Homo sapiens: one gene and its partner. The protein of the gene in region 1 interacts with the protein of each later gene in a biochemical or structural test. Each region holds a gene or a part of one and is shown in the gene's direction. Other genes may lie near its edges.

Region 1 (3,500 bases):
TACTTTAGGAACTGGGCAGGAACAAAACAAAGTCTCTGTTCTGGAGCTTATTTACTATGAAGGACAGATAAGCATGTAAATAAAATGAAAAATAAGATGATTTCAAGTTGTGATAGATACTCTGAAGAAGGCCAAGTGCAGTGGCTCACACCTGTAATCCCAGCATTTTGGGAGGCTGAGGGGGGTGGATCACCTGAGGTCAGGAGTTCAAAACCAGCCTGACCAACATGGTGAAACCCCATCTACTAAAAATACAAAAATTAGCCAGGCATGCTGGCGCACACCTGTAATCCCAGCTAGCTGGGAGGCTGAGGCAGGAGAATTGCTTGAACCTGGGAGGCAGAGGTTGCAGCAACCCGAGATCGCACCACTGCACTCCAGGCTGGGTGACAGAGTGAGATTCCATCTCAAAAAAAAAAATAATACTCAGAAGAAAAAAATGAGTAAGAGAGGCTGTCTGCAGTTGCTCACACCTGTAATCCTAGCACTTTGGGTGGCTGAAGTGGGAGGATTGCCTGAGGCCAGGAGTTTGAGACCAGCCTGGGCAGCATAAGTGAAACCCTGACTCTAAAAAATAAAAAGCCAGATATCATGGTGTGTGCCTATAGTCTCAGCTCCTAGGGAGGCTGAGGTGGGAGGATTGCTTGTACCTAGGAGTTCAAGGCTGCAGTGAGCTTTGATCACGCCACTGTCCAGGCAACAGGATGAGACCCTCTCTCAAAAAAATAAAATAAAAGGCCGGACGTGGTGGCTCACGCCTGTAATCCCAGCACTTTGGGAGGCCGAGGTGGCAGATCACGAGGTCAAGAGATCGAGACCATCCTGGCTAACACAGTGATACCCCGTCTCTACTAAAAATACAAAAAAATTAGCAGGGCCTGCTGGCGGGTGCCTGTGGCTCCCACCTGTAATCCCAGGACTTTGGGAGGCCGAGGTGAGTGGATCACCTGAGGACAGGAGTTTGAGACCAGGCTGGCCAACATGTTGAAACCCTGTCTTGACTAAAAATACAAAAATTAGCTGGTCGTGGTGGCAGACGCCTGTATTCCCAGCTACTCGGGAGGCTGAAGCAAGAGAATCACTTGAACCCAGGTGGCAGAGGTTGCAGTGAGCCAAGATCGTGCCATTGCCCTCCAGCCTGGGCAACAAGAGCAAAACACCATCTCAAAAAAAAAAAAAAAGAAAAAGAAAAAAAAGAATAGAGGATGACTGAAAGCCTTGTTTTTCAGATAGATTAGAGAAGGGCTTTCTTAGAGTTGACATTTAGACAGAAACCCTAAGGATAAAGAGCCAGCTGTGTTGGGAAGAATGATCCAGGTAAGAGGAGCAACAAATATGCAAATGTACAGAACCCTTGCTTGGAAAATGTCTAAAGAACATCAAGCAGACCCCTTGAATACAAGCTCCCCGAAGATAGAGACTTTTGTCTGTGTTAGTTGTGTTCTAGCTCTAGTCCCTAGAACAATATCTGACAAGAGACACTCAACACATAATTTAAGGCTGGGCATAGATGCTCACACCTGTGGGAGGCTGAGGTGGGAGAATCGCTTGAGGCCAGGAGTTCAAGACCAGCCTAGGCGACATAGCCAGACTTGTCTCCGTAAAAAATAAAAAAAAATTAGCTAGGCATGGTGGCGTGACCCTGAAGTCCTAGCTACTCCAGAGTCTGAGATGAGAGGATGGCTTGAGCCCAGGAGTTGAAGGTTGCAGTGAGCTATAATTGTGCCACTGTACTGTAGCCTGGGTGACAGTGCGACCCTGTCTCAAACAGAAAACAAAAAAGCCAATACACATAATTTATAGCATAGGGAGCAAAGGCAGCATGGCAAGAGATAAAGTCACAGTTGTATCAGGAGTTGGTGTATGTTGGGCGTTACAGGCCATGGAGGGAGTTTGAATTCATTTTAACTAATGGGAAGAGAGTGGAAGTTTTCAATAAGGGCATGATGGTGTGATCTGATTTATATTTAACTGATCCAGGTAAGGAATGATAAGAGTAGGGGCTTTGAAATCAGATAGTTTAGGTTCATCCTAGCTGTACTACTTGGTATTTGTGGGAAATTGGGCAAATTTCAAGAAGTCTTTTTTTTAAGCTTCAGCTTTCCTGCGTGTAGAATGAGAACGATGAAAGTATCTACCTCACAGGTATGGTAACAGGTTAAATGATATAATCTCAGGCTCTGAGTTTTTTGGTTTTTTTGTTTTGTTTTGTTTTGAGACAGGGTCTCACTCTTTCACCCATGTTGGTGTGCAGTGGCACCATCATAGCTCACTGCAGCCATGAACTCCTGGGCTTAAGCAATCCTCTTGCCTTAGCCTCTTGAGTAGTTAGGACTACGGGTGTGTACTACTGTATCCAGATAATTTTTTTTTTTTTGAGACAGAGTCTCGCTCTGTTGCCCAGGCTGGAGTGCAGTGGTGCGATCTTGGCTCACTGCAAGCTCCGCCTCCCGGGTTCACACCATTCTCCTGCCTCAGCCTCCCAAGTGGCTAGGACTACAGGTGCATGCCACCATGCCCGGCTAGTTTTTTTGTATTTTTAGTAGAGAAGGGGTTTCACCATGTTGGCCAGGCTGGTCTCTAACTCCTGACCTCATGATCCGCCCGCCTCGGCCTCCCAAAGTGCTGGGATTACAGGCATGAGCCACCGCGCCCAGACTTATTTGGTATTTTTTCAACTTTTTATTATGAATGATTTCAAACACCTAAAAAATTTAAAAAATAAAATGAATATCTATATATCTACCCCCTAGTTCATTCAGCAATTGTTATATTTTACCATATTTGCTTCCTCTATCACTAGCTATGACTTTTTTTTTTTTTTTTGAGATGGAGTCTCACTCTGTTGCCCAGGCTGGACTGCAGTGGTACGATCTTTGCTCATTGCAACCTCCATCTCCCGAGTTCAAGCGATTCTCTTGCCTCAGCCTCCCGAGTAGCTGGGCTTGCAGGCACACGCTACCACAGCCAGCTTTTTTTTTTTTTTTTTTTTGAGATGGAATCTCACTCTGTTGCCCAGGCTGGAGTGCAGTGGTGCAATCTCGGCTCAGTGCAACCTCTGTCTCCTGGGTTCAAGTGATTCTCCTGCCTCAGCCTCCTGTGTAGCTGGGACTACAGGTGTGTGCCACCATGCCTGGCTAATTTTTTGTATTTTTAGTAGAGACGGGGTTTCACTGTGTTAGCCAGGATGGTCTCGATCTTCTGACCTCATGATCCACCCACCTCGACCTCCCAAAGTGCTGGGATTAACAGACGTGAGCCACTGTGCCTGGCCATGCCCAGCTAACTTTTGTATTTTTAGTAGAGACGTGGTTTGACCATGTTGGCCCGGCTGGTCTTGAACTCCTGAGCTTAAGTGATCTGCCCGCCTCGGCCTCCCAAAGTGCCGATGTGAGCCAACACACCTGGCTCTAGCTATGACTTTTAATGTTGAATCATTTCAAAATAGGTTATAAACATCATAACACTTCATCTCTAAATATTTCAACATGCGTTTCTTA
Region 2 (3,500 bases), on another chromosome or scaffold:
TGGGCATCACTTGAATGGGAGTGACTGCTGATACCCTGATAGTGAATGAAGTCTAAGGAAAGCAAGTTTACAGAGAGAGTCAAAAGACTGAGACCCTGAGTCTACTTTGTCAGCCGCAGAGTATCCCAGCATTGAAGAAGCACCCGAGGTGAGCTCAGCATGGGTAGAGGAAGAGAAACCAGAATGGACAGATGGTGAGGAGGGGTGGTAGAGAGCATTGTCCACTTTTAAAAGATTTGTTGAAATAGAGCAGTAGCTTTTGGGCCGGAGCTGGCTATATCCAGCAAAGATTTTGCAGGAAAAAAGTTTCCAGGAGAGAAGATCATTTTTTATTGCAGAGCAGTCAGAATGAGGAGAGGAGCAGACAGAGCAAAGCCTAAGAGAGGGGAAGATGTTACCCTGTCTGGTGTCCAGTTTCCTCATCTGCTAAAAGGGCGATAACAGTAGAGTTACAAACATTAAATTAGTACACATAAAGCATTCATAGGCCAGGTGCGGTGGCTCACGTCTGTAAATCCAGCACTTTGGGAGGCCAAGGCAGGCAGATCACCTGAGGTCAGGAGTTTGAGACCAGCCTGGCCAACATGGGGAAACCCTGTCTCTACTGAAAATAAAAAAATTAGCTGGGTGTGGTGGTGGGTGCCTGTAATCCCAGCTGCTCAGGAGGCTGAGGCAGGAGGATTGCTTGAACCCGGGAGGCAGAGGTTCCAGTGAGCCAAGATCACACCACTGCACTCTAGCCTGGGCTACAGAGTGAGACCCCTTCTCAAAAAAAAAAAGAAAAGAAAAAGCACTTATAATGGCGACTGACATAAACCAGGCATTTATTAAATGGTGGTTTATCACAGTGGGTGTTGATTGTTTTTATTACTTGTTAATGGAAACTTACCTGTATTATAAAACTCAGCAGATTAGAGATGGCTAAAGGTGCCTTAAGTTATGTAACCTAAGAGTCCTTTTAAAACGAGGCCGGGCCTGGTGGCTCATACCTGTAATCCTAGCACATTGGGAGGCCGAAGCGGCCGGATCACTTGAGGTCAGGAGTTCAAGACCAGCCGGGCCAACATGGAGAAACCTACATCTCTACTAATAATACAAAAAATAGTCAGGTGTAGTGGTACACTCCTGTAATCCCAGCTACTCGAGAGGCTGAGGCATGAGAATTGCTTGAATCTAGGAGGTGGAGGTTGCAGTGAGCCGAGATCCCACCACTGCACTCCAGCCTGGGCCACAAAGCGAGACTGTCTAAAATAAAAAAGAAAAAAAAAGTGAGGTTATCAGCCAGCCACCTTCTGTTTACTAGTCTATTTCAAGTTAATTATTTCAGTAAAATAACAGTATCTCCTAATTGCGACTTCATTTGTGAGGAATGCAAAATTTATGAAATGGAAGTGTATTTTTCACATACCCTTGTCTTGGCTGAAGTCATTTCAGTTTGGAAAGTGAGTGTTTTGCTTTTGTTGTAAATTTATCTGAAACCAATTGGGTTGTCTTCCTGTTTGATAACAGTCTCCTGCCTTTATTAGGAATGTTACAAGACAAACGAATGGAGATAGATAAACATAGCCTAAATATTGGTGATTACAATCGAACGGTCGGGAAAGGCCCTGGTTCTCGGCCTCAGATTTCCAAAGAGTCTTCCATGGAGCGCAATCCTTATTTTGATAAGGTAAGGTTTTTTACTTTTACCTCTGACTTGATAAACCAGTATACTTCATAGCGTAATTTTCACACTAATATTTTAAAACCTTTTATATAATATAAAGTGTTACAATCCACTACCAAATCTTATTACTGGATTTTGAAGTTCACTGTCTTTTTATGTCTCAATTTATCATAGAGGTTGCATTTATATTTTTCTTCTTAATCCCATGAAATATGTTTGGCTCTTTTTGTGTGCTCTAGAATTAACACTAATCCGATCTCTTCTGTTTTCTACCTGTTTCCTGTTGATGCTGGAATGTCATGTGACTTCTCTTCTGTTCCTGCAATGATTTCTCCCTTCCACTTGTTTGCTTGGCTGGTGTTGCACATCTTTCTGTCTGTCCAATCAGGATGGCATTGTAGCAGATGAATCCCAAAACATGCAGTTTATGTCCAGTCAAAGCATGAAGCTTCCCCCTTCAAATAGTGCACTACCTAACCAGGCCCTTGGCTCCATAGCAGGGCTGGGTATGCAAAACTTGAATTCTGTTAGACAGGTAAGTCCAGATGTGTATTTTAGGCTCTCAGTTGAATGATTTGTATTAGTAATAAGATCTCTCTTACATGTAGTTACTGTGTTTAAATCATAGTACAGTGTGGTAATGAGATGTTTGTCCCTAAAGAATCCCACTGTTACTTGTTGCTGTTTGTTTTTATAGAATGGCAATCCCAGTATGTTTGGTGTTGGAAACACAGCAGCACAACCCCGGGGCATGCAGCAGCCTCCAGCACAACCTCTTAGTTCATCTCAGCCTAATCTCCGTGCTCAAGTGCCTCCTCCATTACTCTCCCCTCAGGTAAATAAGCTTTCCTTACATTCTCCTGTTTACCTGCAAAAAGGATCTTGCATGATTTTGTATTTGAATAAAATGGCTAACTAAGCATTATCATATTTATTGGCATCTTTGAGATTCAGCTAGTTTTGAATTAACTATTAAAAAAGGTTGTAGTAAGGAAAAGTCAAGGATAATTTAAATCCAAAATTTACCATTTTCTTCTTTAAAACATTCTTGAGAGTAGGACAAAAGCAAAGTAAAATTGACTAGTTTAAGATGCACCTCTGTCATCTTTTACTTAACCCACGAAAAAGTGTAAGTGAGTGGTCAGTTAGTAAGACAGAGACAAAGACTATAACCCCCAATGAATAGTCCACAAATTTAACTGCTCTATTGACAACTGAAAACACACAGTACGTGTAGTTAGTGTGAGTTATTTTATCAAGATCATTAACTTACCATTGTGATCCTAAGGTTCCAGTTTCATTGCTGAAGTATGCACCAAACAACGGTGGCCTGAATCCACTCTTTGGCCCTCAACAGGTAGCCATGCTGAACCAGCTATCCCAGCTAAACCAGCTTTCTCAGATCTCCCAGTTACAGGTAAGCAGAGTCATAGTCTTTCTTAGTACACATTTATGGAGCATCTACTGTATGCCAAACACTAGACTCTGTGCGGGACATAGTGCACTAAACAAAACAGGCGTAGTCATAGTCCTCATGGAGCTTACAGTCTATCGGGGGAGACAGATCGTGAACATTTGTGAAGAATGTCTTGAAGAAGTGCAGAATGCTGTGAGAGGAAACCTCAGCCAAGTCCAGGGTGCTAGTGTTAGTAGGATGATTAGGAAAAGTTTCTCTGTTGAAGTGAAAGTTTAGATTGAACTAAAGACTGAATTTCAGCAGTGACTAGAAACCAGAGAGTCCAAGGAAGAGATGGTACTAGATAATGCTAGACATGTTGGCATTGGCTAGATCACGTCGTGCCTCTGTAGGTCCATCTGCTGTCGTCATTTGGAA

The links.
Region 2: the proteins of CNOT10 (region 1) and TNRC6A form a complex in vitro, tested with the Homo sapiens proteins (one study listed by BioGRID).

What each region holds. Positions count from the first base shown.
Region 1 is NC_000003.12:32,688,188-32,691,687, forward strand, and holds part of CNOT10 (CCR4-NOT transcription complex subunit 10), read left to right. Parts: intron 1-3,500. UniProt on the Homo sapiens protein: Component of the CCR4-NOT complex which is one of the major cellular mRNA deadenylases and is linked to various cellular processes including bulk mRNA degradation, miRNA-mediated repression, translational repression during translational initiation and general transcription regulation.
Region 2 is NC_000016.10:24,802,651-24,806,150, forward strand, and holds part of TNRC6A (trinucleotide repeat-containing gene 6A protein), read left to right. Parts: intron 1-1,526; coding exon 1,527-1,669; intron 1,670-2,054; coding exon 2,055-2,201; intron 2,202-2,363; coding exon 2,364-2,501; intron 2,502-2,954; coding exon 2,955-3,083; intron 3,084-3,500.